Homo sapiens: one gene and its partners. The protein of the gene in region 1 interacts with the protein of each later gene in a pairwise test. Each region holds a gene or a part of one and is shown in the gene's direction. Other genes may lie near its edges.

The links.
Region 2: the proteins of CPSF6 (region 1) and UBQLN4 interact in a two-hybrid assay, tested with the Homo sapiens proteins (one large-scale study listed by BioGRID and IntAct).
Region 3: the proteins of CPSF6 (region 1) and KLHL12 interact in a two-hybrid assay, tested with the Homo sapiens proteins (one large-scale study listed by BioGRID and IntAct).
Region 4: the proteins of CPSF6 (region 1) and EWSR1 interact in a two-hybrid assay, tested with the Homo sapiens proteins (one large-scale study listed by BioGRID and IntAct).
Region 5: the proteins of CPSF6 (region 1) and WWP1 interact in binary tests that used the Homo sapiens proteins (3 or more experiments, as listed by UniProt).
Region 6: the proteins of CPSF6 (region 1) and UBXN6 interact in a two-hybrid assay, tested with the Homo sapiens proteins (one large-scale study listed by IntAct).
Region 7: the proteins of CPSF6 (region 1) and PLSCR1 interact in a two-hybrid assay, tested with the Homo sapiens proteins (one large-scale study listed by BioGRID and IntAct).

Annotation. Positions count from the first base shown.
Region 1 is NC_000012.12:69,246,069-69,249,568, forward strand, and holds part of CPSF6 (cleavage and polyadenylation specificity factor subunit 6), read left to right. Parts: intron 1-3,500. UniProt on the Homo sapiens protein: Component of the cleavage factor Im (CFIm) complex that functions as an activator of the pre-mRNA 3'-end cleavage and polyadenylation processing required for the maturation of pre-mRNA into functional mRNAs.
Region 2 is NC_000001.11:156,036,799-156,040,298, reverse strand, and holds part of UBQLN4 (ubiquilin-4), read left to right. Parts: intron 1-3,168; coding exon 3,169-3,321; 3' UTR 3,322-3,500. UniProt on the Homo sapiens protein: Regulator of protein degradation that mediates the proteasomal targeting of misfolded, mislocalized or accumulated proteins.
Region 3 is NC_000001.11:202,917,235-202,920,734, reverse strand, and holds part of KLHL12 (kelch-like protein 12), read left to right. Parts: intron 1-826; coding exon 827-980; intron 981-2,346; coding exon 2,347-2,564; intron 2,565-3,500. UniProt on the Homo sapiens protein: Substrate-specific adapter of a BCR (BTB-CUL3-RBX1) E3 ubiquitin ligase complex that acts as a negative regulator of Wnt signaling pathway and ER-Golgi transport.
Region 4 is NC_000022.11:29,281,768-29,285,267, forward strand, and holds part of EWSR1 (RNA-binding protein EWS), read left to right. Parts: intron 1-622; coding exon 623-790; intron 791-3,500. UniProt on the Homo sapiens protein: Binds to ssRNA containing the consensus sequence 5'-AGGUAA-3'. Might normally function as a transcriptional repressor. EWS-fusion-proteins (EFPS) may play a role in the tumorigenic process.
Region 5 is NC_000008.11:86,408,547-86,412,046, forward strand, and holds part of WWP1 (NEDD4-like E3 ubiquitin-protein ligase WWP1), read left to right. Parts: intron 1-2,991; coding exon 2,992-3,328; intron 3,329-3,500. UniProt on the Homo sapiens protein: E3 ubiquitin-protein ligase which accepts ubiquitin from an E2 ubiquitin-conjugating enzyme in the form of a thioester and then directly transfers the ubiquitin to targeted substrates.
Region 6 is NC_000019.10:4,447,795-4,451,294, reverse strand, and holds part of UBXN6 (UBX domain-containing protein 6), read left to right. Parts: intron 1-464; exon of another isoform or gene 465-2,879; coding exon 2,880-2,977; exon of another isoform or gene 2,978-3,500. UniProt on the Homo sapiens protein: May negatively regulate the ATPase activity of VCP, an ATP-driven segregase that associates with different cofactors to control a wide variety of cellular processes.
Region 7 is NC_000003.12:146,531,108-146,534,607, reverse strand, and holds part of PLSCR1 (phospholipid scramblase 1), read left to right. Parts: intron 1-1,057; coding exon 1,058-1,138; intron 1,139-3,500. UniProt on the Homo sapiens protein: Catalyzes calcium-induced ATP-independent rapid bidirectional and non-specific movement of phospholipids (lipid scrambling or lipid flip-flop) between the inner and outer leaflet of the plasma membrane resulting in collapse of the phospholipid asymmetry which leads to phosphatidylserine externalization on the cell surface.

The DNA of each region.
Region 1 (3,500 bases):
AGAACGAGACTTTGTCACACACAAAAATAGATTAATTACTTTTAAAAGAATGGAGGTGTATAGAGGCAGTAGTTGGAACAAAGAATTCACTTAGGAGTTACGGACCTGGACATCCGATAAGTCAGTTTTTATGTCATGAATCATTTTGCTTTACGTTCAGTCATTATGTATGTATTCTAGCCAATTGTTGAGCCAATTAATGAAAATAAATTTCTTGGACAAATATCAGAGAAACATTGTTTATGATTTATTTATGTTTACTAGAAAACCATCTGAAATAAAGCTGTCAGGTTGAGAATGAGCTAGGTAGAATTGATTCAGAAAAATGGATAGAAATGTTCAGGGAAGCTAGAACTCTTCTCTATTTTGTTATTTATGGGTGCAGTTAATTTAGTTGCCTGTGAATTGTCCACTATGGTTTATGTGGCATATTTTTAGTACCAAATTCCTTACCATTATATAAGGAAGGGATTTTTACAGGGATTACTAGCCAGTTTTAATAACTACTGAGAACATAATTAGATAAAACCAGAAAATGATATATTTTCTTTAAAAATGTATGCATTAGGTTATCTGCTATTGGATTTTGCATACTAGTATTTCTTTTCCGAGGTATAGGATATATTTTGTAAATGCAAAATGTAACTTCCCCCCTTCATATATTTCTCTAAATGGAAATAATTTAAAATAGGCTTTGAAACAAGTGGCCTTTGCTGTGCATTTACTGATAGTATCATATAATGCACGAATTTTGTATGTATTTATGTATTTTTATGGTAGAGATGGGATCTTCCTAAGTTGCCCAGGCTGGTCTTAGACTCCTGGGCTCAAGGGATCCTCTTGCCTTGGCCTCCCAAAGTGGTGGGATTAACAGGCATGAACCACCATGCCTAGCCTCGAATGATATTACTGTAATTTTAGAACCATCAAAAAAATATCAGGCCTGTCAGGGAGAATGATGAATATTTTGACAGCCAACAAGTTCATCCCAATAGTGGTATACAGTATGTATCGTATATCTGTGATATTAAAATTGTAAGAGGGGTAATTAGGGAAAAAATGTCTAAAAGTAACTTCTTGAAGGGAGGGAGGAGACAGGGATAATGAAAAGGTTGAGAAGCCATACTTTAAGGGAACTAATAGGATTTTGGTCATTTTGCCATCCATTTTCTCTGGCTTGGCAACAGATATTTGTATATCATGTGGAGCATAATCTTGTTGTGTAAAATGTTGAGAGAATACCTTGTCTAAAGAATGATTGTAGTGATTTAGAATGGTAGGGAATGAAAAAAATTAGTGAGTTTTTTTTTTTTTTAAACAAACCCTAAGAGCTGTTGTTTATTCCAAGCTTTATGTAACATAGCTGGCTAGCTACTATGAACAGCAGATAAGATTGGGCAACATTTGGTATCAAAGATAATTAGAGGAATGATGTTGATATTTTCTTGTTTTTTGAATGCCATTAAAATTAAAAGTAATAATTGAAAAGACCCTTCATGTAATAAAAAATGATACCGTGAAATATTTCTTTGACAAACTGGAAACCTTTTTTTTAGTCTGTTCAGTAGGCTCACAGAGCTTTATTTATATATGACCTGTGATATACATTTTGCATAATTTCTCATGCAAACATCATGCATATTTTCTCACTTTATGAAGTAAGAACAAAGTTCAGTATGTTCTGTATTTTTTTTTACGCTGGAGGATTGATGTGATATGAAGCTGATTAAAAGGAAGGTTACTGATAACTACAAAAGAGTGTGCTTTGAGTTTCATTTTTAGTAATGGCAGCAAATGTATTCAGATTCATTATGTTTTTTCACAAAGTTTAAATGTATACCATTGGGGCTAAGTGTACAGGCTGTGGCCTTGGAACAGAGAGAAGCTAACTAGTCCACATGGAGATCAAACCCCAGGACCATGGTCTTAATTAGGATCGTACTACAACCACTTGGAAGCAGTACAACTACCAGACAAAATGGCTGATCCTAAATATTGGTAGAATCATATCAATGTGGAAAATTGGTTTGTGTCAACATAGGAATTCATGGATGGACAAAAATAGTAAGTGATTGTGATATACCAGGTTAGTGTAGCTGCAATTATGCTTGTAAATTTTTTGTCTACTTATGTAAACATTTTCACAGGTTTGTAGCTAATAGAAGAAAACAAAGAATCTGTTCACCTATTTATGTAAGTGAAAGTGTAAATTTAAAAATACATTTAGTCCTGCTGTTAATAACCCTTCCATTCTTTTTTACTTTCCCTCAGACCATATATTGTGATTATAGTTTCTGCTGAGGAGGATGGAAACTCAACTCCCTTTGAATAATATTAGTAATTCTACTTGATGTTCAGAACCGGATTGCAAGAGAGTTTAAAGTGCCCAACACCCCTTGTGGGAAACTTTTTAGTATCTTAAGTGCATGGAACTACTGCTGCAGCCACACCGCCTGAAGCTTCAGCCACACTGAAACTTCATAACAAAACTTACCCTCTTTTTTCCTAATTTCTGTGGTCATTGCAATTTGAGCATGTTACTTTGTTTAACAAAAACTCATTTCTTAAAGATTATTTTAGTATTGCTGTACAAACAGAATAAAATTATGGCATTATTCAGTGACTTGTGGTCTTAGTTTCTGCCCTTTGTTAAATTTAGCTTTGTTCTCTGATTTAACCTTGAGATCCCAGACCCCTTATTAAATAAGTCTTATAGACATTCTACCTCGTAACAAGTAAAATTGGTATGTAAAGATTCTGTAACTAGTAAATTGGATAAGTCATTAATTACATAAACGATTACCTGATGATTACTTGAGGTCCCTTTATTTAGGAATATAAATGATATTTCCCCTACTAGGCTTTTTTCTTTTTCTTTTAAAAAGATCTTATTCTCGGCCGGGTGTGGTGGCTCACACCTGTAATCCCAGCACTTTGGGAGGCCGAGGCGGGCGGATCACGAGGTCAGGAGATCAAGACCATCCTGGCTAACCCATCCTGCCTAACACGGTGAAACCCCATCTCTACAAAAAATACAAGAAATTAGCTGGGCAAGGTAGCGGGCGCCTGTAGTCCCAGCTACTCGGGGGGGGGGGGGGGGGCTGAGGCAGGAGAATGGCGTGAACCCAGGAGGCGGAGCTTGCAGTGAGCCGAGATTGCGCCACTGCACTCCAGCCTGGGCGACAGAGCAAGACTCCGTCTCAAAAAAATAAATAAATAAAAATTAAAATTAAAAAAATACAAAATAAATAAAAGATCTTATTCTGGCTCTCCTTTAAATAGCAAAACAGTAGCCTGGGCCCATAATATCTTGTTGCTCTGTTTACCATCATATAACAAATGCTTTTCTCTGGGTCATTCTATCCATTTAGGGACTATTTTGGCTAATAGTCCCTAAAACCATTAGCTCCTCCATATGTGCCATTTGTATAATTCTTTAGTAAATTGTATTAATGGGAGAATCTGTAAGTTACGTCTGAACTTTCAGGTTGTCTTATAAT
Region 2 (3,500 bases), on another chromosome or scaffold:
TCAACCTCCCGAGTAGCTGGGATTACAGGCACGCGCCACCACACCCGGCTAATTTTTTTGTATTGTTAGTAGAGATGGGGTTTCACCATGTTGTCCAGGCTGGTCTCGAACTCCTGACCTTAGGTGATCTGCCTGCCTCGGGCTCCCAAAGTGCTGGGATTATAGGCGTGAGCCACCACACCCGTCCAGAAAGGGCTTTTATACTGCAAGTCAGGGGGCCTTAGTGACTGACTTTCTCTGTGACCCCAGGCAAGTCCTGTCTTTTCTCTGGATCGAACATTGTTCCTTTCAACACCAGGTGGACGGTGCTTGCTGGACTCTTTCTAGCTATAAGAGTCTTTTTTTTTTTTTTTTTTTTTTTTGAGACGGAGTCTCGCTCTGTCGCCCAGGCTGGAGTGCAGTGGCCGGATCTCAGCTCACTGCAAGCTCCGCCTCCTGGGTTTAGGCCATTCTCCTGCCTCAGCCTCCCGAGTAGCTGGGACTAAAGGCGCCCACCACCACGCCCGGCTAATTTTTTGTATTTTTAGTAGAGACGGGGTTTCACCATGTTAGCCAGGATGGTCTCGATCGCCTGACCTCGTGATCCACCTGCCTCGGTCTCCCAAAGTGCTGGGATTACTGGCGTCAGCCACCGCACCCGGCCACTATAAGAGTCTTTTGTTCATAATCAAGGCTTGTGCTTTCCAAATACCCCTTGGGCAAACATTTACAGGAGATAATTAGAGGAATGACAAGAATGAAAAGCCAAGCTAGCCAGGCGGTGGCTCACTTCTGTAATCCCAGCAATTTGGGAGGCCGAGGCAGGCAGATCACCTGAGGTCAGGAGTTCAAGACCAGCCTGACCAACGTGGAGAAACCCCGTCTCTACTAAAAATACAAAATTAGCTGGGTGTCGTGGCGCATGCCTATCATCCCAGCTACTCGAGAGGTTGAGGCAGGAGAGTCACTTGAACCTGGGAGGCAGAGGTTGTAGTGAGCTGAGATCGTGCCATTTTACTCCAGCCTGGGCAACAAGAGTGAAACTCCATCTCAAAAAAAAAAAAAAAAAAAAAAGCCAGGCCAGGAGTGTGGCTCATGCCTGTAATCCCAGTGCTTTGGGAGGCCAAGGCAGGGGACTGCTTGAGGCCAGGAGTTCGAGACCAGCCTGGGCAACGCGGGGAGACCCAGTCTGTAAAAATTTTTTTCTTTTAAAAAAAGTCTTAGTGCAAGCTGGGCATGGTGGCTCATGCCTGTAATCCCAACATTTTGGGAGGCCAAGGCGGGTGTATCACTTGAGGCCAGGAGTTCAAAACCCACCTGGCCAACATGGTGAAACCACGTCTCTACTAAAAATACAAAAATTAGCCGGGCTTGGTGGCATGCACCTGTAATCCCAGCTATTCAGGAGGCTGAGGCAAGAGAATCGCTTCAACCCGGGAGGCAGATCATGCCACTGCATCCAGCCTGGGTGACAGAGCGAGACTCCGTCTCAAAAAAAAAAAAAAAAGAAGAAGACCTAGTGCAGTGGCTCATGCCTGTAATCCCAGCAGTTAGAGAGGCCAAGGCAGGAGGATCACTTGAGACCAGCCTGGGCAACATAGCAAGACCCTTTCTCTGCTAAAAAAATTTTTTTCTTTATTTTTTATTTTATTTTTATTTTTTTGAGATGGAGTCTCACTCTGTCCCCCATGCTGGAGTGTTATGGCACAGTCTCGGCTCACTGCAACCTCCGCCTCCCGGGTTCAAGCGATTCTCCTGCCTCAGCCTCCTGAGTAGCTGAGACTACAGGCTCCTGTCACCATGCCCAACTAAGTTTTGTATCTTTAGTCTCGGGGTATCGCCATGTTGGCCAGTCTGGTCTCGAACTCCTGACCTCAAGTGATCCACCTGCCTCAGCCTCCCAAAGTGCTGGGATTACAGGCATGAGCCACCACGCACTTTTGTTTTTTTAAGATGTACTCTGTCTTCCAGGCTGGAGTGCAGTGGCGCAATTTCAGCTCACTGCACCTCCGCCTCCCGGATTCAAGTGATTCTTCTGCCTCAGCCTCCCAAGTAGTTGGGACTACAGGCATGCGCCACCACACCTGGGTAATTTTTTGTGTTTTTAGTAGACATGGGGTTTCGCCATGTTGGCCAGCCTGGTCTTGAACTCCTGACCTCAGGCAAACTGCCCATCTTGGCCTCCCAAAGTGCTGGGATTATAGGCATGAGCCACTATGCCCAGCCAAAAAAAAATTTTTTTTTAATTGGCTGGGCAAGGTGGTACACACCTGTAGCCCCAGCTACTCAGGAGGCTCAGAGAGAAGGATCACCTGAGCCCAGGAGATAGAGGCTGCAGTGAGCTATGATTCTGCCACTATATTCCAGCCTGGGTGCAAGACCCTGTCTCAAAAAAAAAGGAAATACTTCTCTTTTATAAATAACTGTTGATCAGTGAAACAAAATTAAATAGCTTCTTAACTGGGACCCTTCTCTAGCCTTTCATATGGCTGTACGTGTGATGACTATTAGGAGGGGCCTTGGAGGTCATGCTTAGTATGCATCTTATTTGACCATAGAACATTTGGCTTTTGGAGTGCCTGTTAACATCTCCAGTGTTTATGGAAAGTAATGAGGAATATATGCTGATCTAGGCCTATCAGTTATCTTGAAAATCTAAAAAAGATATCCGCCTGCCATATTATTACACAGTTTTGTTTGTTTGTTTTTTTGTTTTTGTTTTTTGAGACAGAGTCTCGCTCTGTTGCCCAGGCTGGAGTGCAGTGGCGCGATCTCGCCTCACTGCAAGCTCCGCCTCCCGGATTCACGCCATTCTCCTGCCTCAGCCTCCTGAGTAGCTGGGACTACAGGGCGCCCACCACCACACCCAGCGAATTTTTTGTATTTTTAGTAGAGATGGGGTTTCGCCGTGTTAGCCAGGATGGTCTCGATCTTCTGACCTCGTGATCCGCCCGCCTCAGCCTCCTAAAGTGCTGGGATTACAGGCGTGAGCCACCGTACCCGGCCATTACACAGTTATTTAGGACTTGGGACCTAGGCTCCTGGGCCCCCATTTGCAGCTCATCTTCCCTGCCCTCCTGATTGACTCTGAGGATATTAGAGAAGACCTGCTGGTCTTAGAAACCCTTAATTCAAATAGGGCCCCCAAGATTGGTCCTGTGCCCACTTCACAAGGCCTGTCCCCTCCAGGTGCAGACGCCAGAAGTGAGATTTCAGCAGCAGCTGGAGCAGCTCAACTCCATGGGCTTCATCAATCGTGAGGCTAACCTGCAGGCCCTGATTGCCACAGGAGGGGACATCAACGCAGCTATCGAGAGACTGCTGGGCTCCCAGCTCTCCTAATCCCTCGGCCCATGCCTCCTGCCTCTCCCCTCCCTCGATGTCAGCATTCGGTTCTTCTGTCAATCCTTACCCTCTGCAGCTTGTCCTCCCTTCCGTCTTCTCCCTCATCCTTTCCAAACAGCAGGGTGACTTTAGAGGCATGGGCTCCAACCCCTTAGCTCTGTCTGAGAATTATGGTT
Region 3 (3,500 bases), on another chromosome or scaffold:
TTCATTTGGAAAGCTACAGATAATGTGCCATATTTGCTTTATTAAAATCCAACAAAATTGGCCGGGCGCGGTGGCTCACGCCTGTAATCCCAGCACTTTGGGAGGCTGAGGCAGGCGGATCACGAGGTGAGGAGATCGAGACCATCCTGGCTAACACGGTGAAACCCCGTCTCTACTAAAAGTACAAAAAATTAGCCGGGCGTGGTGGCGGGCGCCTGTAGTCCAAACTACTCGGGAGGCTGAGCCAGGAGAATGGCATGAACCCAGGAGGTGGAGCTTGCAGTGAGCCGAGATGGCACCACTGCACTCCAGCCTGGGAAACAGTGCAAGATTCCGTCTCAAAAAAAAAAAAAAAAAAAAAAAAATCCAACAAAATAGAGCATAATTTTATTTTTTTATTTTCTTTCTTTTTTATTTTTTTGAAATGGAGTCTCACTCTGGTGCCCAGGCTGGAGTGGAGTGGCACAATCTTGGCTCTCTGCAACCTTCGCCTCCTGGGTTGAAGCAATTCTCCTGCCTCAGCCTCCTGAGTAGCTGGGACTACAGGCATGTGCCACCATGCCCAACTAATTTTTGTATTTCTAGTGGAGACGGGGTTTCACTGTGTTGGCCAGGCTGGTCTTGAATTCCTGACCTCAGGTGATTTGCCTGCCTTAGCCTCTCAAAGTGCTGGGATTACAGGCATGAGCCACCACGCCTGGCCTGTAATTTTTAAAGATAAATGTTCAATTAATATTATTAACATCTCTAAGCTCTTAGATATGAGATTCTGCCTTTATCTTGTGGAATTATAACCATCATTCTTTTATACCTTTTGAATTTTCAGCTCTCAGAGAAGGGGAAACCTTATGTTGACATCCAAGGTTTGACTGCCTCTACCATGGAAATTTTATTGGACTTTGTGTACACAGAAACAGTACATGTGACAGTGGAGAATGTACAAGAACTGCTTCCTGCAGCCTGTCTGCTTCAGTTGAAAGGTACAGACATTAAAACTTGCTATTGTTTATGTCAAAATAGCCCTGGAAAGGTTGAAAATTAATAGTGTAAACTTAATCATGAACATTTTGGAGACAAACTATGGATGTTCATGTTTGCTGGCCATGGCTTTTGTCTCATTGAGCAATAAGAGATCAGATGTCAATAGCACTATAAAGGAACTTCTCCAGATATGAGTATTTGGCTCTATAAAAGAGAGCATTTGCACCTTTTCTGTTTTAAAAAAAAAATGGAGGAAGGAGAAATTATGTGTTTTCTTACATACATGTATGTAACACACCTATAAGGAAATATAATAAAAAAGTGATACTATACATAGCCTACATGGATACTCTTTATCTATCTGGCCATTAAGTGGTAGTATTTCATTAAGATACATGAAATTTAAATTGATGCACAAAATATTAAAGTATGATATTTTCACAGGATTACAGGTGGTTTGTTTTCCCTTACAATTCCCAGGTTTTTTGTTTTGTTTTTGAGACAGAGTCTCACTCTGTCACCCAGATTAGAGCACAGTGGTGCAATCACAGCTCACTGTATCCTTGAATTCTTGGGCTCAAGCAATTCTCACACCTCAGCCTCCTGAGTAGCTGGGACCACAGGTGCATGCCACCACACCCAGCTAATTAAAACAAAATTTTTTTGTGTGGAGATGAGTTCTCTCTATGTTGCTCAGGCTGGTCTCAAGCTCGTGGGCTCGAGTGATCCTCCCACCTTGCCTCCCAGAATGCTGGAATTATAGGCACGAGCCACCGTTCCTGGTCCCCAGTTTTTCTTTTTTAACATTCAGTTATGTTTTCAGTTTTTATATATACATAATTGACACACTTTTAGTTTTTAATACATGATTTAAACAGTGTGAAGCTTTTGCATTAGTGCATAGCCATAACATTAAAATACTCTGAACTTTTCAATTAGATAAATATGAGATTTGTTATTACTATCTTCTCCTTTTCTTTCACTCTAGTCTTTTAGTAAGTTTTCATGTAGAGTAGAAAATGGATACATTATGCTGAATTCGCAATTGGTTTTATAGTTTGATTCCCAAGAGTTTTATAGGCATTTTTGTTGAATTGTGCCAGGTCTCTGGATGTGATTCATCTTGCAATACTCATTTTAAAGATTAAGCAGAGACAGGTGTAAAGGTCTTGCTGAAAGTGGCACAGTACATAAGCCAGAAATAGAGTTTAAGTTCCTTAAGCATAGAATTTCTAATCTGTTTCTTAGGTGTTGAAACAAGGGTTCATCTGATAACATGTAGAGAAGATGCTGAGATACAAGAATATATCCTAGATCACACCTGTCCAACTATTCTAAAGTGTTTGCTGCCTGTGTCTGTCCTAGGTGTGAAACAAGCCTGCTGTGAGTTCTTAGAAAGTCAGTTGGACCCTTCTAATTGCCTGGGTATTAGGGATTTTGCTGAAACCCACAATTGTGTTGACCTGATGCAAGCAGCTGAGGTTTTTAGCCAGAAGCATTTTCCTGAAGTGGTACAGCATGAAGAGTTCATTCTTCTGAGTCAAGGAGAGGTGGAAAAGCTAATCAAGTGCGACGAAATTCAGGTACGGATTTGTCTTGATGTTATGGTTTCTTCAAGATTGGGCAATTACAAAACTTGCAAATAGGATGCAGTTACTTACCATCAGGGCTTCATAATTAAGTGTGCATTTTGGCTCAAAGATTTCATTAACCCCTCCTGTACCAAATTTATTTGCATTTTTATGGAGAGGGAGTTTGCCACTTTCTTCAATTAGATATATGATCCCAGTGGGTAAGAATCACTATTCAACAGAGTATAGAATAAGCAGAAATTGGAAGTAAAGTAGGTATCTGTAGACCACTTCTCTATTACCCGTTCACTCATTTCACAAACATTTATTGAGAATATCTACTATGTAGCACTTAACTATGCCAGGTGCTACAGATCCCCAAGTGGGTAAATATAGTTCTTGCTTTCAGAAAATTCACAACCTGCTAGTAGAGACAGAGATATAGACAAAAAAAATGTTATAAAGAGGATCATGAGAATAGTGAGCCTATACAAAGTAAGGACATTACATAGAAGAAAGAAGAATAAACCTTTGCTCAGGAGTGGATCAGAAATGAAGAGACAAAAGTTTGGAAGTGAGGATCTACAGAAGCAGGAGCCAAATCATAACTGTCTTGTGAGGATGCAGCGGTTGGAAGGGAGGGACACATGAACTGGATGTTAAAGGAATAGTAGGCCAGGTGCAGTGGCCTATGCCTGTAATCCCAGCACTTTGGGAGGCTGAGGCAGAACTGCTTGTGTCCAGGAGTTTGATACTAGCCTGGGCAACATGGCAAAACCCTGTCTCTACAAAAAAATAAAATTAGCCTGGCATGGTGGTGAGCACCTGTGGTCCCAGCTACTTGAGAGGCTGAGGTGGGAGGATCTCTGGAGCCTGGGAGTTTGAGGCTGCAGTGAGCCATGATCGCACCACTGCACTCTAGCCTAGGCAACAGAGGGAGACCCTGTC
Region 4 (3,500 bases), on another chromosome or scaffold:
GTAGAGACAGGGTTTCACTGTCTTAGCCAGGATGGTCTCAATCTGCTGACCTCGTGATCCGCCCTCCTCGGCCTCCCAAAGTGCTGGGATTATAGGCATGAGCCATTCTCGCCTGGCCTTGACCTGGTCTGTTTTTAATAAATGAGAAACATAAACCCACAAATTCTCTAAATTTATGATGCCATGGACTTACGTAAATGTTACTTCAACCTAAAACTTAACATTATTGTTAGTTTCTGGTCTTCAGCAGTCCCCTTTGAGAAAAAGCATTTATTCCCTAACAGATCACTTCTCCCGGATCACCTAAACTGGTAGCACACAATATCGCAACGCACTTTTATAGCGTTTACTGTGATGAATGGAGCATATTAATGTCTCTTCTGTGGATATGATTGATTCTCCCCCTTCCTTAGTGTTGTCTTCAAGCAAATATAGTTGGACCGACACTGAGTTTGATGTAGTTTACTTTAGGATTGTATTTATTATTGTATTTATTTCCAGGCTTAATCATAACATTGCTTATTGCTCGTAGCTTTGTAGCATTCTTACCCAGGAGTTTTGTGGTTGACCAACCACACAAAAAAAGTCACTTTTTAATTTTATTTATTATTTCTCCTCTTAGACCGCAGGATGGAAACAAGCCCACTGAGACTAGTCAACCTCAATCTAGCACAGGGGGTTACAACCAGCCCAGCCTAGGATATGGACAGAGTAACTACAGTTATCCCCAGGTACCTGGGAGCTACCCCATGCAGCCAGTCACTGCACCTCCATCCTACCCTCCTACCAGGTCAGTCTACTTTTTGTGGCAAAACAAAAACAGTGACAAAACAGTTTTTTTCAGGTTGTTGACCAGCTTGCTTTGACTTCTTCAGCTAAGGTATGTTATCTGACTGTCGCAGTGATAAGTCATCTGACCATACTTGGTTACATTAAAGCCTGAGATCTAGGGTCCCATAGTGTTGCCTGGCAGCTAATAACTATTCTTTTTTCTTTTTTTTTTTTTTTCCCCCGAGACGGAGTCTCTCTCTGTCGCCCAGGCTGGAGTGCAGTGGCGCGATCTCGGCTCACTGCAAGCTCCACCTCCTGGGTTCACGCCATTCTCCTGCCTCAACCTCCCGAGTAGCTGGGACTACGGGTGCCCGCCACCACGCCCAGCTAATTTTTTGTATTTTTAGTAGAGACAGGGTTTCACTGTGTTGGCCAGGATGGTCTCAATCTCCTGACCTCGTGATCCACCCATCTCGGCCTCCCACAGTGCTGGGATTACAGGCGTGAGCCACCGCACCCGGCCCAGCTAATAACTATTCTTTCTAAATACAAAAACATTTTTACCACTCTAAGTTCTTTCTTTAAGTTTCTTCCTTTTGCTGTTTTAGTTAACTCAGATGGGAAGCAGAAGTATATGAAAGCATGTAAATAGATGTAAGAGCCATCTTCCCCAATGCAGTTAGGATAAGTAAAGCGCAGGGCATTATAATTCACCTTAATCATTTTACATTTTACCTAACACATAAAGGTTTATTCATGCACTAACCTTTTAATGTATGGGCCAACTCTTTTTATTTTATTTTTATTATTATCGCCTGGCCAAGTTTTCTTTTTTGAGACAGAGTCTCACTCTGTTGCACAGGCTGGAGTGCAGTGGCACGATCTCCGCTCACTGCAACCTCTGCCTCCTAGGGATTCTCATGCCTCAGCCTCCCGAGTAGCTGGGACTGCAAGTGCATGCCACCACACCTGACTAACTTTTCTTTTTGTTTTATTGTTGTTTTGAGATGGAGTTTCGCTCTTGTTGCCCAGGCTGGAGTGCAATGGCACAATCTCGGCTTACTGCAGTTTCCACCTCCTGGGTTCAAGTGATTCTCCTGCTTCAGCCTCCTGAGTAGCTGGGATTACAAGTGCTCACTACCACACCTGGCAAAAATTTTTTTTTTTGTATTTTTAGTAGAGACAGGGTTTCACCATGTGGGCCAGGCTTGTCTGGAATTCCTGACCTCAGGTGATCCACCCGCCTCCACCTCCCAAAGTGCTGGGGTGACAGGCGCGAGCCCCTGCGCCCAGCCAGTTTGTTTGTTTGTTTTGAGATGGAGTTTTGCTCTTGTTGCCCAGGCTGGAGTGCAATGGCGTGATCTTGGCTCACCGCAACCTCTGCCTCCTGGGTTCAAGCGATTCTCCTGCCTCAGCCTCCCTAGTAGCTGGGATTAGATACAGACGCCACCACAACCGGCTAATTTTGTATTTTTAGTAGAGACGGGGTTTCTCCATGTTGGTCAGGCTGGTCTTGAACTCCCATCCTCAGGTGATCCGCCTGCCTCGGCCTCCCAAAGTGCTGGGAATACAGGCATGAGCCACTGCGCCTGGCCCAGTTTTTGTATTTTTAGTAGATACAGGGTTTCACAATGTTGGCCAGGCTGGTCTTGAACTCCTGGCCTCAAGTGATCCGCCCACCTTGGCCTCCCAAAGTGCTGGGATTATGGGATTACAGGTGTGAGCCACCATGCCCAGCCTGCAAGTTTTCTTAACCCATGTTTAATTAGATGTGGGTTTTCAAATTGTTTGAATTGTGCCCTGAAAGTTTTGCTAGAAGTAGCGGTTCCCTTTTTTGCACTCATTTCATTGTTTTGCAGCAGATGTGAACAGGTTTAGGAACAAGTAGAATTGATTGGGTGTCTCTCCATACAGCCAGCTTGGAGCAAAAGTGGGTAGGGCTTACAACCCTTCTTCCACAGAGCAGGTTCGTACCTATTGCATTGAGAGCAGTTAATAGCAGTTAATCTGGCAAGTTGGATAGGTACACAGTGAGAGATTATTGAATTCATACAGCAATGGTGAGGGATGTGGTGTGTTAGAAGCTTTGTTTGTTTGTTTATTTTTGGAGACCGGGTCTCACTCTGTTGTCCAGGCTGGGGTACAGTGACACAGTCGTAGCCCCCTGTAGCCTCGAACTTCCTGGCCTAGTTTAATCGGACTTTAAAATATGTGTCCTTACTGTTTCTCATCATGATTTGTAAAGCTTAATACCAGATGGGTTTTTTTGTTTTTGTGTGTGTTTTGTTTTGTTTTTTTGAGACGGAGTTTCACTCCTGTTACCTAGGCTGGAGTGCAATGGTGCGATCTTGGCTCACCGCAACCCTCGCCTCCCAGGTTAAAGTGATTCTCCTACGTCAGCCTCCCAAGTAGCTGGCATTATAGGCATGTGCCACCACACACAGCTAATTTTGTATTTTTAGTAGAGACGGTGTTTTTCCATGTTGGTCAGGCTAGTCTCGAACCCCTGACCTCAGGTGATCCACCCGTCTCTGCCTCCCAAAGTGCTGGGATTACAGGTGTGAGCCACTGCTTCTGGCCCTTGTTTTTTTTTTTTTTTTTTTGAGATGGAGTTTTGCTCTGTTGCCCAGGTTGGAGTGCAGTGGCGCTGTCTTGGCTCACTGCAGCCTCTGCCTTCCAGGTTTAAACAGTTCTCTTGCCGCAGCCTCTCGAGTAGCTGGGACTATAGG
Region 5 (3,500 bases), on another chromosome or scaffold:
TTAACAATACTGAATCTTCCCATTGAGAGATATTTTATGTCTGTATTCATTCTTTTTAGTAATGTTTTTTAAAGTGTTTTCTTCACGCTGGTTGTGCAGTGGCTTACGCCTGTAATCCCAGCATTTTGGGAGGCCCAGGCTGGGGAATCACTTGAGGTCAGGAGTTCGAGTCCAGCCTGGGCAACATAATGAAATCCTAAAAATGCAAAAAAATTTAGCCGGGTGTGGTGACGCATGCCTATAATCCCTGCTACTTGGGAGGCTGGGGCAGGAGAATTGCTTGAACCTGGGGTGCTGAGGTTTCAGTGAGCTGAGATCGCGCTACTGCACTCCAACCTGGGTGACAGAGCAAGACTCTGTCTCAAAAAAAAAAAAATTTTTTTTCTTCGGATAGGTCTTGAAGTAATCTTGTTGTTGATCTTGTGTCTGTTCATTTTGCTGAAATGTTTTAGCTCCAATTAATTGGTTCTAATGGGGTTTTTAAAAAAATTTTCTTGTGTATTCTAAATAAATAATCTATTTGTCATTTTCACTACAAATGAGTTTTACCATATTCTTTCCAATGTTGTTATGACTTTTCTTAATGGATTGTCAAATATAATCAATACTGAATTGGCTTGGTAATTGTGATCTTCCTTGTTTTGTTGCTGATTTTAATTTATTCTTTTTCTTTTTCTTTCTTTTTTTTTTTTTTTTTTTTTTCTTCAGACGGAGTCTTGCTCTTTTGCCCAGGTTGGAGTACAGTGGCGTGATCCTGGCTCACTGCAACCTCTACCTCCCGGATTCAAGCAATACTTCTGCCTCAGCCTCCTGAGTAGCTGGGATTACAGGCACACAACCACCACACCCAGCTAATTTTCCTATTTTTTGGTAGAGACAGGGTTTCACCGTGTTGGTCAGGGTGGTCTCAAACTCCTGACCTCGTGATCCACCCGCCTCGGCCTCCCAAAGTGCTGGGATTACAGGCGTGAGCCACTGTGCCCAGCCCTGATTTTACTTTATTCTTGATCTTAATAGAAGTTCTTACAATAGGCTGGGCACAGTGGCTCATGCCTGTAATCCCAGAACTTTGGGAGGCCAAGTTGGGTGGATCATTTGAGGTCAGGAGTTCAAGACTGGCCTGGCCAACAAGGTGAAAGCCCATCTCTACCAAAAAATAGGAAAACTAACCAGGCGTGGTGGCGGGTGCCTGTAATCCCGGCTACTGGGGGGCTGAGGAAGGAGAACCGTTTGAACCCGGGAGGTGGAGGTTGCAGTGAGCTGTGATTGTGCCACTGCACTCCAGTCTGGGCCACAGAGCGAGACACCTTCTCAAAAAAAAAAGTTCTTAAAATGTTTTACAATTATTGTATATTAATGACTGTAGGTTTGTGATAGATAATCTAGATTACTTCTTAATTTTTCATGATTCTTCTTATCAGGCATTTTACCAAGATTTTCTTGAATGCTTTTGGTTTGTTTTGAAAATAATCATATGACGTTTATCCTTTAATCTGCTAACAGTAGATTTTCTAATGTAGTTTCCTAATATCAAATCATCCTTGAATTTATACATGATGTTAGTCTATAGTCTTCTTGTTCTGTTGTTGTTCAGTTTCAGCTTTGAAAGTTTACATTACCTTCCCAGAATAAGTTAGGACACTCCTTTTCACTTTTTCTCCCCTAATGTGTTATAACACCTTAAATAACATAAGAATGATCTATCCAATAAAGGCTTCATAGAATTTTCTCAAAAACCTTTCTGAGCCTGGAGCCTTTAGGAGGGATGATATTAGAACTTTCATCACCTTTTCCATTGCTGCTCTGATTTGTCTTTTTTTCTTTCCCTTGAGTTAGTTTAGCTAATTTCAAACTCATTGATATGAAATTGTACGTGGTATTTCTAATGTTATTTATATTAAACATGTTTTCTTTATAACACTTGGAAAGGTATATTTCATGGTTTCTCCAGCTTTCCTGAGTAAAAAAATCATATGCATTTGTTAAAAATGCAGATCCCCAGGTTCTTCCCTAGAGATTTCCCCTAGAGATTCAGTAAGTCTAGGATGAGGACTTAGATACTATATTTTCAGTAAGTTCTGGAGTCTTATCAGGTGCATTAGGAAATTCTGATCTTTTTTTTGGGTCTTTTGACCAAAATTCATTTTCTTCTACTTACTTTTTTTTTTTTTTTCTGTATCTGGAATGAATTCTAAGCTCTTTTGTTACCATTCTTTCTTACATCTTTAGGTACTTCTTTGGCCATGTCCAGTAGCATTTAATCTGAGTGTTTTCTTTTTGTCATTAATTCTCCTAAAATTTGTGATTATGTCTCCCTCTGCCATTTCCATTAGAACTTTGATATATGGTCTTCCAGTAGGTTTTGTTCTGTAATCTATTCACCCTTACAGTTTTAATTTGACTCATTTTTATAGTGACACGTAGTCGAACTAGATCAATCACACTTAAAATGAAAATTAGGAAAACTGTGTCACTGGATTGCAGTACTGGGTTATTTCTTGAAAAAGTGTAGAATGGGTTCTTGCAACCCCTATAGTACTATCTTAAGAACTGATGCCATCATACAGTTCCTACTATTGGCAAAACAGTTCGTTTGATGTTAGCTACCACTTACACAAGGGAAGGGCGATTGAAAGGGATCATTTTTCAGAGTTTAGATGGCCCATACAGACTTCCTCTCAGAATTGATGATTTGGAGGGAAAACACTGGTTATCTTAATGCTGGTTCCTCTCTCCTTAAGGTTGTTATTATTATACATACTTAAATTTTTATCATTTACATATTCATCCCTGAAATTTTGAGCAACAAAAATAAAATCTCCATTTTATTTTATGTTACATATTTTGAAAATATTACTTTGTCTGCTGTTTGGAGAATGGATTGTAGTTGCTTAGTCTGGATTAGGCTCTGAATAAGTGTAGTCAATTGATTAGGTAATTGATTGCTTTATCATTACTTGATAGATGATTTTATTAATTTTCCCTTCTCAGTTAATGGAGAATCATCCTCATTTGCACCAACTGATAATGCGTCTGTCACGGGTACTCCAGTAGTGTCTGAAGAAAATGCCTTGTCTCCAAATTGCACTAGTACTACTGTTGAAGATCCTCCAGTTCAAGAAATACTGACTTCCTCAGAAAACAATGAATGTATTCCTTCTACCAGTGCAGAATTGGAATCTGAAGCTAGAAGTATATTAGAGCCTGACACCTCTAATTCTAGAAGTAGTTCTGCTTTTGAAGCAGCCAAATCAAGACAGCCAGATGGGTGTATGGATCCTGTACGGCAGCAGTCTGGGAATGCCAACACAGAAACCTTGCCATCAGGGTATGTTAAGCTTTTTAATGTCTGACTTGCATTTAAGTAGCAACTCTGTTAACATACGATTATTGAATGTGTGCATAAAATGTTTTCATTGTTCAGAACTTTGAAATCTAAGTTGGGATCTGAATCATACTATTTATTTACTTGCTACAAAACAAGTACTTTTTGAAACTAA
Region 6 (3,500 bases), on another chromosome or scaffold:
CCTGAGGTCAGAAGTTCCAAGACCAGCCTGGTCAACATAGTGAAACCCCCTATCTACTAAATATACAAAAATTAGCCAGGCGTGGTGACAGGCGCCTGTAATCCCAGCTACTCAGGAGACTGAGGCAGGAGAATCGCTTGAACCTGGGAGGTGGAGGTTGCAGTGAGCCCAGATCACGCCATTGAGCTCCAGCGTGGACACTGGGTGACAAGAGCGAAACTTCATCTTAAAAACAAAACAAAACAAAATAGTAATAGTTCCATAGACTCTCCAGACTCACACCCACTCCAGCAGTGTGTGCAAAAGCACCCGTGTCCCCATCCTCTCACCATACTGTAAATCACCAAACTTTGATCTTTACGCCTGTTGGTAGGTGAAAATAACATCTCAGGATAGAGTTAATTTGCACTTTCCTTATTTTGGATTGGCCATGTTTCATATGAGAATGCGTCCTTTCTACATTATTTAGTAGATAGTTTGTCTTTTTATTAGTGATTTGTAGGCACTCTTTTTTTTTTTTTTTTTTTTTTTTTTTTGAGACAGAGTCTCGCTCTGTCGCCCAGGCTGGAGTGCAGTGGCGCCATCTCTGCTCACTGCAAGCTCCGCCTACGAGGTTCACACCATTCTCCTGCCTCAGCCTCCCGAGTAGCTGGGACCACAGGCGAACCGCCACCACGCCCAGCTGATTCTTTGTATTTTTAGTAGAGACGGGGTTTCACCATGTTAGCCAGGATGGTCTCGATCTCCTGACCTCGTGATCCGCCCGCCTCGGCCTCCCAAAGTGCTGGGATTACAGGCGGGAGCCACCGTGCCCGGCAGCACTCTTTACATATTAGGCAATTTAGGCTTTTGCCTATGATATGAGTTGCACATGTTTCCCTCTAGTTGCTTCTATGTTGGCTCTGCTTATGGTCACTTTGCTGTGTAGGATTTTTTGATCTCTGTATAATTAAATGTGTCAGTTTTAGTTCATGGCTTTTGGGTTTGGGGTCATTCTTAGAAATGCCTTCCCCATTTCCATGCTGAGAGAATTCTTTTGTGGCCTCTCCAGTGCTTTTTTTTTTTTTTTTTTTGAGACAGAGTCTTGCTGTCACCAGGCTGGAGTGCAGTGGTGCAATCTCAGCTCACTGCAACCTCTGCTTCCCGGGTTCAAGCAATTCACCTGCCTCAGCCTCCCAAGTAGCTGGGACTACAGGTGCACGCCACCACACCCGGGCTAACTTTTGTATTTTAGAGATGAGGTTTCACCATGTTGGCCGGGATGGTCTCGCTCTCCTAATCTCGTGATCCGACCGCCTCGGCCTCCCAAAGTGCTGGGATTCCAGGCATGAGCCACCGTGCCCGGCCTCCAGAGCTTTTCTTCTGGCTTCTCCTTGACTGCTTGCTTGTTTCCATGGTTGAAGCTTTGATCCAGCTGGAGCATGTTATTATGTAACATGGTGGGATGGAGCTGATGTAATTTTTTTTTTAGATCTTGGCTCAGCTTTCTTCTCAGCCCCACCTGTCGAGAGCACCTGTCTTTTGCTTACAGCTGTGAAATCCCACCTTTCTCACAAAGTACATTCCTGTATGGATTTGGACCCCTTCCTGGCTGCTGTTCCTTCGTCCCTTGTCTGTGCATGTACCCAGCTCCTGACCTAAGCCTGGCAGCCAGTCGCCCAAAACGCCCGAGGCCCGCTTTTGGAGCTGACACGCTTCCCTTGGCTGGTGTGCTGTCCCGGGCGCTCTGATCCCAAGGAAGCTGTTGTCTTGGGGACATGCCCATCTGGCAGCTCTGCCTCTCTGCATCCACGTGCTCTGTCCCGCTCCCCACATCATCTCAGCAACTAAACCGGCAGACTGGGCCGGGTCCCAATTTTCAGTTGGCATGAGCCCCGGCTCAGTGTGTAGGTCATTGGTCCGTGTGACGCAGGGGGCTGCTGAGGGACCCTGCTGTGCAGTTGAGGGTGGGGGGTGGTGGGTGGAGCTCTGGGCTGCCTGGGCAGGTGGCCCGAATCCTGACACATGGCCCTGGGCTGCCCTTCTGTTCACCCGCCCTCGTCTGGGCAGCCCAGGGAGGTGCGGGTGGCAGCCCTGCTTCCCAGGCCATGGGTGGCTCTCTGGGTGTGGCCGTGTGTGATGGCTGTGCCGAGCGTGGATTTGTGCCCCAATCTTTTCCAGGTCTTAGGGTACGTACTGTTCTCAGCCTCTCCATGCTGGGACGCTGTTCGCAGTCAGCAGGGCTGGTTCTGGGAAACCCCCAGAGTTCCAGCTATGACTTCTCCCCTCCCCCGGTAACATAGGTGGATAGGTGGGACCTCGGGGAGGGGCAGGGGCTGGGGGTATCCGTCTTCCAGCTATTGAGTTTCAGACATTGAGGGTTGCAGACTCATTTGTGTCCTCTCTGCCACCTGCCATCCCTGTGACCCTGGACGATGGGCCTCTCGGTCTCTTTGTAAACATGAGGCCCGGGAGTGGTTCCAGAACGTCCATCATGGGGCTGCGAGAGCAGGAGGGATGGGGCGTCCATGGTGGCGGGAGGTTCTGTAAGTGGCGGTGGCCTTGATGGATCTCAGCACTGAGGTCGAGTTCTAAAGCCAGAGTGTGAGGCACAGTTCTGTCGCGTCACACTGGCTTCCAAGTCCCATGGATCTAGCCTTGAGAAGGCGGAAGGGGAGACTTGAGTTCTGCTGGGTCTTGGCTGCGTCGCCTCTGCCCTGGGGCGTGGGCAGGGCTGCGGTCTTGGAGGGTCTCTCTTTTCCTTTCTGTGATGAGCGCACAGCTGGGGCCGCTCCAAGCCGCTGTTCTGCCTTCCTTTTCCTGCCCCTGTTACCTGGGCAGCGGAGGGCCGTGCGGCCCGGGCTCTCAGTGAGTGGCTTTCCCTGCTTCCCTCCTCCCAGCACTTCTCCACCGACCCAGTGGCCGCCTCCATCATGAAGATCTACACGTTCAACAAAGACCAGGACCGGGTGAAGCTGGGTGTGGACACCATTGCCAAGTGAGCGTGTGGCCCCTTTGCCCTGCCTGGCCCCTCCAGCTCATCCCAGCACCCCTCCCACTGGGGCTGTCACCCCCTCTGGCCCCCTCATTACCTGCTGAGGTGGGTTGGGAAGGAGCATAGGCCGAGAGTGAGGCAGCTCCACCCAGAGGCCTCAGGCAAAGGGCTGGGCCTCCTTGGGCCTCAGTTTACCCGTGTGCAAAATGAAGGTGTTGAAGGAATCAGGGGTTTCCCACCCTGGCTTCCTTGGGGAACATGTGGAGGAGGCAGGGTCCCACCCCACTCCCCGGGTCTCAGGATCGGGGGCAGGCCTGGAGGTCCACGCTGCCCGCCAACGCCGAGGGAGCACCCCGCAGGAGCCCCCTGCTGGCACTGCGGCCCTTCAGCTCTGGCTCTCCACTCTTCCGGCACTGTGGCTTCCCCACCGCTGTGGTTAATTGTGCCCTTCCAGGGCTGGTGGGACGGTGAGGGGTTCCGTGGGGCTCCTGCTGGCACCAGGGGTGGGCTCCATGGGGTGTCCGAG
Region 7 (3,500 bases), on another chromosome or scaffold:
GTCATCATGAAGCTATTTATGAAGGAGAAAGGCCGGGGCAGGGGGTGGGGGAAACAATCCAATCTTCCTGATAAAACCACACGATTCACAAGTTGAGTGGTCTTTGAAAGTTCATAATAGAGACACATACAGAAAAATGTGTTACAGTGAAAGTTTGACCTATATGTTCTTCTATATTGATGCCATGTCTCCATGATTCTAAAACAAAAGACTTTGAATTTACAGTTAGTAATTCATAAGGAAACAGATAAGGAGATAAGTGTAGTGTCTACTGCACCTTAAGCTGTATGAAAGCAGAGCCATTGTAGCCACAGAGCCTAATTCAAGGGTGACACAGGACATGCTCAGTAAATATTTAGAGACTGGCTGCGGTAGGTAACCGAATGACTAGATAGACATGAATATTAATATTTAGGAGGTTGAACCATTTGTGCATATATTAAGTTTACTCAAGCCTTATTAGCAAATAACAAAGTTTAATATGCTAGTGTATTGTAATTAAACATGGCTTTTGTGGGTCAAAAACAGTCATATTTGGGGAATTTCATATGGTTCAACTTCATTGGTGTAGTTCCAGAGTAAGCATAACATATATAAATACTGAAGTATATTCATTATTTTAAATATTTAAAATAATACTTACAGCAATGATGATAGATATCTTTAAAATCATCCATAATTCTACCATCTTCACATCCCATTAATTTCATTTATCTCTTTCTTCGTAGTCTGTATGTAATTTTAAAGCTATCTTTGTTTTATTATCAACAAAACATGGAACTGAACATTCATCAGGGATGTTTCAAAAACTGGTAATTCAGCCCCAGTAACTTAACTGTCTCATTTTATCTAAAGGAGAATTTGTTTGAAACAAATTTGCTAGTTGCAAATTAGCTCTGAGAACAGGCACAGCTTACGTTAAGTGAAAATTTTACTTTCCCTATTTCAATACAGCATAAGAACATACAAGTTACAATTATCTAAGTACAATACATTGTTTCTTTCTAATATATATTTTATTTAATCAGACATCTATTTACCTCTCCTTGAATTGCAGACTCACAGATGAATGCTTCTCACCCGGAAACAAACTTGCCAGTTGGGTATCCTCCTCAGTATCCACCGACAGCATTCCAAGGTAAAGCAGTTGCTGAAAGAAGAAAAAGTAAAATTAATTGAGAGACAGAGAGAGAGAGTGAGAGTGGGAGAGAGAGAGTAAGAGAGAGAGAGAATTGTGCATTTGTTTTTATTTTAGTAGTTCTTTTTTTAAAATTATATTAATGAAATTTTGGCAGCCTAGTTGTTCTTGATTATTTTTATTTGGCTATCATTTTGCACAGAAGTAATTTTTATTTATAGAGGACAGTAAAGGTATAAAGAAAGCTAGTAAAAACAACATTAGGTTTACATTTAGCAAATGAAATACAAGACTGTACATCCTAAAATACAAATGTTAAGTAAAATATTTTATTGATCCTCCATCTGTTCTGAAAATTATGATCATTTAATCACATTTAGGAAATTTATTTCTGATAAACTGAGTCATGTAGTAGCTTGGCATGTGTTCAGTGAGAGTCACATCAAAATAGTAAGACTGCTTAAAACTGAAAGTAATAGAAATTCAGTTACCTGGGAATAATTCTCATTTTAATTTTATAATGTATATGAAAGCTTTATTTTTATATATATGCTGATTCCACCCTGTATTTCTAAGAAAAGTAATTGAGTCATTTGACTACATACATAATTGAGTACATTTTTTCTTTTCAACCAATGCCTGAAAGAATTCAGAGATTTTCATTTAGGCAAATGCAGTTATCAAAACTACTAGAACTTTAAAAATAGCAAAGTCCATGGCATGTCCAGATTTACAAGCAGACAGGCTACCCACATCTTGAAAGAGCATCCTGAGGATTTAGGACCAAAGGGAATGTGGTTTGGATAGAAGGATGTACCCACTGTGTTTTCTTCTCTGAGTAAACAAATGTGCTTAGGAGCTGAATGTCATGTTTAATTGCCTAGCAAGAAACCTCCCTGCGGGTCCCGGATCTCATCCAGATGTTTGCAACTGAAAGAATATGAGCTAGATAAGCTCAGACTCTCAAGTGGTGGCTCATGGCAACCTTGTCTGCACTGAAGTATCATCACCCAGAAGCACTTAAAAATAGTAGTGCAAAGGCACTATTCCAGAAAAATTAAATCATAGCTTCCAGTGGTGGGACTCAAGGAATAGTAATCTTTTAACACCCCAAGTGATTCTAAGGTGAAGCCAGGGTTGAGAACATCTGCTCTAAATTCTTATAGGGTTGGTGTTTGAAAAATCATTAGTAAGTCTATAATATTCATCCAAGGCACTTAAGAGAATGATTTAATCCACCCTATCACTAATTAAAAGTAGATATACATAAATAATACAGTTCAGATATAATCAGACTTGAGAGTTTGTTTATATATATAGATATATATGGCTCTACAGCTTGATTTTGTTTCTCAAGTCCAAGATTACATATAGCACAAGTCTTAAGATAACGATGCTAAGAGTAAGGATAATTTAAAATTGAGATCTTACCATGCTTTAGTCATTGTTTTAAATGTGGAGTTAATGTGGACTAACACTTTTAATTCTTAGAATACTCTTATGAGGTAAATACTGTCAGTTATCCCCATTATGTATGTGGGAAAGCTGAGGCATAGGAAGTTTGTATCAGGCTTCAAGTTCTGCCTACTTTAAAAAAAAAATTCGTATAGGTAAATGTGCTGGTAAACCAGGTTCTGCCTTCTGTACTAATAGTTATGTGGTAGTTTAAACAAGTTGCAGTACCTCAAAGCCTCAGAGTTCCTATCTATAAATAAGGGTGATATTTTCAATGTAGGTTGCTTTGTAGAGTAAATGAGAGTATATGTAAAACACTGAGCACAATGCTTGCAAATTATAAATGACAAGTATTTGCTAACATATTTAAAATATTTTAAATCAATTAGTCTTTACATAAATGATACTAGTATTCAAATTTCAGGTAATTCTTTATGCTTAATTCATTGATTTGAGGAGTAATCCATCATACTTTCAGAGTCTGGGGAAAATTATGATGATGTTAAAAATGTAAGAAATTAACTCACATCTCCATATCCCCACTGGTCTGCCTATGGTCTGGTTTCTGTGCTGACCCCAGTGATCTTTAAAAATGTAAATCTGCTCATATTACAGAGAGTGTAGAGCCCCTATTTTATTAGTGGCCTATTACTTTTAGGATAAAGGCTAACACTAAACTCAGGATGGCCTTTTCCATGCTCTCTCTTTAACTTCCTCTTGAGCCTGGCTTGCTGTTATTCAGCTAGACTGGCTATTTTTCAGATTTTTAAAGGCCTATGTTAGTTACTGTCCCAGGACGTTGCTCTGAAATGTTCTTTCTGTGACTCTGGCCTCCTGAACTCCTGTGCATCCTTCAGATCTCAGCATAAAGGTGACCCCTCAAGGCAGCTGTTCCTGCTCCTTCCCT